Linked DNA regions of Homo sapiens: region 1 is linked to region 2. Evidence: fine-mapped expression QTL. A gene starts in region 2. The other region holds a variant in brackets. All regions are shown on one strand. Distances are from middle to middle.

Region 1 (2,500 bases), 29 kb before region 2:
TATCTAGAAGGAGAAAAGGAGAATATCTAGAAGGAGAAAAGGAGGGGATGTATAAGCATTATTTGAGAAAAGTAGACATTTTCCTAGAACTCATAGAAAGGGCTAACAAAGTTGTAAACGGAATTTTTTTTTTTTTTTTCCCTGAGACAAGGTCTTACTCTGTTACCAGGCTGGAGTACAGTGGCACAATCATGGCTCACTGCTTACTACAGCCTTAGCCTCTGGGCTCAAGCGATCCTACCATGTCAGTCTCCCAGGTAGCTGGGATTATATGTTTCCGGTAGAGACAGGATTTTGCCATGTTGTCCAGGCTGGTCTTGAACTCCTGAGCTCAAGTGATCCACCCGCCTTGGCCTCTCAAACTGCTGGGATTACAGACATGAGACACTGTGCACGGCCTTATGATTTCACTTTTTTAACCAAAAATCTGGTCCAGGTGCAGTGGCTCATACCTGTTGTAATCCCAGCACTTCGGGATGCCTAAGCAGGTGGATCACTTGAGCTCAGGAGTTCGAGACCAGACTTGACAACACGATGAAACCCTGTCTCTACAAAAAAATTAGCCAGGCATGGTGATGGGCGCCTGTAGTCCCAGCTTCTTGGGAGGCTGAGGTGAGAGGATCACTTGGGCCCTGGAGGTCGAGGCTGCAGTGAGCCATGATCAGGCCAGTGTACCCCAGCCTGGTTGACAAAGCAAGACCCTGTCTTAAAAACAAAAAAATGGCCGGGCGCAGTGGCTCACGCCTGTAATCCCAGCACTTTAGGAGGCTGAGGTGGGCGGATCATGTGGTCAGGAGATAAAGACCATCCTGGTTAACATGGTAAAACCCCGTCTCTACTAAAAATACAAAAAAATTAGCTATGTGTGGTGGCGGGTGCCTGTAGTCCCAGCTACTCGGGAGGCTGAGGCAGGAGAATGGCGTGAACCTGGGAGGCAGAGCTTGCAGTGAGCAGAGATCACACCACTGCACTCCACCCTGGGCAACAGAGCAAGACTCCATCTCAAAAAAAAAAACAAAAATAAATAAATAAGCGAACAATAAAGTAACAGCATAACAAAAAGATTCAGAGCAAAATCCCAAAAGCTACTAAGAAAAAAT[A/T]GATTACCTACAAAGGAAGTAGAATCAAACATCAGGCATCTTCTCCGCAACACTAGAGGTGACGATAAATCCATAACCTAGGATTTTATGTATAGCCAACTACCATCAAAAAGTGAGAATAAAAGATATCCTCAGACATAGACTCAAAGTACCACCTGTATACACTTTCTGGAAGAACTATGAAGAAGGAAAAATCAGTTTTGAGAGAAGCTACTAAGATTTTTTTTCAAAAGTTCTGAGTGTAAAACAAGTTTTTAAATTTGGGAAAGTGAAAACATGCTAAGCACATTGACATTAGACATTGTTAAACACTGCAAAGAGAATTAGTAGGAGTGGGAGGAAACTTGGTAGCTCCAGTTGAGGCAGGAAAGGTTTAAAAAGAAAACCCGTCAATTAGAAAATACAAAATTGGGCCACGTGCAGTAGTTCACACCTATGATCCCAGCACTTTGGAAGGCCAAGTCAGATGGATCAGCTGAGGTCAAGAGTTCGAGACCAGCCTGGCCAACATGGCAAAACTCCATCTGTAATTTAAAAAAAAAAAAAAAAAATTATAGGAATAATTTCAAACATCAGTGATTGCAGTAAAAATAAACTTATTAAATGACACGTTTAGATTGTGTTCCAAAATTTAGCTAAAACTAGCTAAATCAAAGAATTCAAGATAAAAAGTAATCAGTAGGACAGAACAATTCATTAAGACATTATCAATCATGAAATGTACTTAATGAGGCAAAAACTGATAGAATTACAAGGAGATCTGAGATGTGTGTAATACTCAATTTTCTGAGCACGCTTGCAGGTCAAGACAACCAAAAAAATTAAAGCTATTAAAGCTATTAAGGATTAGAACAGAATTTGTTTTGGAGACAGGGTCTTGCTCTGTTGCCCAGGCTGGAGTGTAATGGCATGATCACAGCTTACTGCAGCCTTGACCTGGGCTCAAGCCATCTTCCCATTTCAGCGTCCCAAGCAGCCCAACTAATTTTCTTTTTTTTTTTTAAGAGTTGGTGTCTTGTTATGTTCCCCAGGCTGATTTTGAACTCATGGGCTCAAGTGATCCTCCCGTCTTGGCCTGCCAGAGTGCTAGGATCACAGGCGTGAGCTGAGCCACTGCACCCAGCTCAGTGTGATTGTTTTTTATTTTGGAGACAGGGTCTCACTCTGTCACCCGGGTTGGAGTGCAGTTCCTTGATCTTGGCTCACCGTTACTTCTGCCTCCCAGGGTCAAGCAATCCTGTCTCAGCCTCCTGAGTAGCTGGGACCACAGGCAGTCACCACCACGCCCGATTAATCTTTTTTATTTTTTGGTAGAGATGGGGTTTCACCATGTTGCCCAGGCTAGTCTCGAACTCCTGAGCTAAGGCAGTCCACCTGCCTCAGCCTCCCAAAGTGCTGGG
Region 2 (3,016 bases):
TTAGGGGAGCGGCCACCCTAACATCACCTACCACGTGCCCAGCACTGACCTTCTTGTCTATTACCCGCAGGGACCGGAAGTAGGAGTAGAAGAAGGTGTCTGTGATCGTCAGCGGGTTCCGGATGGCCAATTCTCTCAGGAAACTGTCTTCTGCATTCGAGTTGTTCAGCAGAGCCCAGGGGGAGTGGCGGCTGCGGACCAGGCCCAGCAGGGCCTCCACCGTCTCCTCTCCGGGGCTCACCACATCCTCCTCTCTGGGGACAAGCTCCCTCCAAGTTCGCCAAGTTTGAGGAAGAAAGCGCGACTTATTCTGCAGTGGCAGAGGAGGGATTTTCTGTAGGTGTGACACAGCCCCCTTAAGGACACCAAACTCTCAAAACAGAACAGATCATAAAACTGGACGATTAGGGATAGAGTTTAGAAATCTAGAGAGTAGGCCAGGTGCGGTGGCTCATGCCTGTAATCCCAGCACTTTGGGAGGCTGAGGCAGGCGGATCATGAGGTCAAGAGATCGAGGCCATCCTGGCTAACACGGTGAAACCCCGTCTCGACTAAAAATACAAAAAATTAGCCGGGCGTGGTGGCACGCAACTGTAGTCTCAGCTACTCGGGAGGCTAAGGCAGGAGAATCGTTTGAACCCGGGAGGCGGAGGTTGCAGTGAGCCGAGATCACGCCACTGCACTCCAGGCTGGGTGACAGAGCGAGACTCCGTCTCAAAAAAAAAAAAAAAAATCTAGACAGTGAATAATCAATAATTTTGATGGATTATTAGCCATGGATATAACTACAGATGAGGTGAGATACAAAATAATTAAAAGGTGCCATTCCTTTTAAAAAGGCAGGTGGATCACTTGAGGTCAGGAGTTTGAGACCAGCCTGGGCAACATGGTGAAATCCTGTCTCTACTAAAAATACAATAATTAGCCGGGCATGGTGGCAGGTGCCTGTAATCCCTGCTACTTGGGAGGCGGAGGTTGCAGTAAGTCGACATCGCGTCACTATGCTCCAGCCTGGGCAGTAAGCCTTCCTGGGCCACACCTGGGCGCCCCTCGTGGTTGAAGCCACGGGAGGGAAGGGTCTAGGACTCTGGAGACAGGGAGGCAGGATGGGGGGTAACCCCTTCTCCTGGACTCAAGGTCGCAGGCTTCAGGCTGAGCCACCTCTCACACTGCCTCAGGCTCTTATTAAATGCTCGGAGGCTGGGAAAAGTTGTGGAACTCTTTGCCCAAAACAAAAGCTTTTCACCCCAAAAGGAGCCTGCCCACTAGAAATCTGGGGTGTTGACGTCTTCAAGTCAGGGAGAGGCCCCAGCCCAGGTCAGCTGATGTGCTCAGGACGGGCCCCGCTCTCCTCCCCGCGCAGTGCCCGCGACTCGGGCCCCACCGTCACCCTCAAGCCCCACCCGCCCCCATGTCGGCGGCCCCCAGAATGCGCAGATCCCAGGCCCCAGGGACCAGCCCGCTCCGCTCGCCCGGGCCCGTGCCTCCCCGCAGCCGGTCCAGGCCCCCAGAGTTCCGGCCCCGGCGCCCGCACCCAGCTGCCGGCACCGCACGGGAACTCGCGCAGACACAGCTTCCGCAAGTGCTCGCGCACGGCCGCGCTCACGGTCCCGGTCCCGGGCCGCTGAGTCCCAGGCCCGGCCTCAGACTCGGACTCGGACTCGGACTCGTACGACGCCTCCATGGCCCGGGCCGCGTTGCCCGGCAACCGCTAGGACGCGTGCGCGGGGGCAGGGGCCTCTCCAGGCGCTCTCACCTGCCCCGAGGGAAAAGTCCCCCATCCGGATCAGACAGCCTGGCCCCAACCACCTGCGTTTTCTCTTCTGCCCTCATCTATAAAAATGGGATAACAGCTGGTGGTTCTAAGTGCGGCAGCTCCCGCAGGCAGTAAGCGCCATAGCTGACCTGTTTCTTAGCTCCTGTCAAGCACTCCCCACGGAAAGTCATCCTATACCCATCTGACAGATGGAGAAAGGAGAAGAGGGCCCAAGGTCAAACATCTCGACTCCAACCAGCCAGTGGGTTCCAGGGTGGTCTCTCTAACCCTGGAGTCAGGGATTTTATCACTGTCCACCTGTATAACTGTTTAATCACCCAGACCTCATTTTTTAAATTTTTTATTTATTTTATTTTATTGAGACAGAGTCTCGCTCTGTCGCCCAGGCTGGAGTCCAGTGGCGAGATCTCAGCTCACCGCAATCTCCGTGTCCCGGGTTCAAGCGATTCTCCTGCCTCAGCCTCCCGAGTAGCTGGGATTACAGGCGCGCATGACCACTTCCGGCTTTTTTTTTTTTTTTTTTTTTTTTGAGACCGAGTTTCACTCTTGTTGTCCAGGCTGGAGTGCAATGGCGCGATCTCGGCTCACTGCAACCTCCGCCTCCCAGATTCAACCGATTCTCCTGCCTCAGCCTCCCGAGTAGCTGGGATTACAACCGCCTGCCACAACGCCCCGCTAATGTGTATTTTTAGTAGAGACGGGGTTTCACCATGTTGGCCAGGCTGGTCTCGAACTCCTGACCTCAGGTGATCCACCCACCTCGGTCTCCCCAAGTGCTGGGATTACATACGTGAGCCACCGCACCCAGCCTAATTTTTTGTATTTTAGTAGAGATGGAGTTTCACCATGTTGCCCAGGTTGGTCTCAAACTCCTGGGCTCAGGCAATCCACTGGCCTCAGCCTCCCAAAGTGTTGGGATTACAGGCGTGAGCCACCACGCCCAGCCATGAAGCTTCTTTTATAAGGACATTGATCCCATTCCTGAGGAGCCCCCAAACTTAATCACTTCCCAAAGGGCCCCACGTTTTAATACTATCACACTGGGCATCAGGTTCTGACAAATGAATTTTGGAGGAACACATTAACATCTCTCATTCTTTTTGACTATACGATATCGGGACAACTTTACTGTTATTAGAAAAATTAGGCTGGGCGCGATGGCTCACCCCTGTAAACCCAGCACTTTGGGAGGCTGAGGTGGGTGGATCACCTGAGGTCAGGAGTTCGAGACCAGCCTGA

What was found. PIP is the estimated chance that this variant, and not a neighbour inherited with it, causes the effect.
Region 1: its variant is fine-mapped to the expression of LRRC43 in whole blood (TOPMed, PIP 0.99).

What each region holds. Positions count from the first base shown.
Region 1 is chr12:122,211,147-122,213,646 of GRCh38, reverse strand. The region is part of intron 5 of DIABLO (diablo IAP-binding mitochondrial protein); the gene reads left to right. Among named protein-coding and RNA genes, the nearest start is that of B3GNT4, 8.7 kb to the right of the region's middle. The variant A/T (reference allele first, on the strand shown) is at 1,101.
Region 2 is chr12:122,181,813-122,184,828 of GRCh38, reverse strand. It overlaps LRRC43 (leucine rich repeat containing 43), which reads right to left and starts at 1,706. Exons shown (of 12, transcript NM_001098519.2): 1 at 1,535-1,706; 2 at 50-310. The coding sequence starts at 1,684. RefSeq lists a silencer at 1,579-1,678.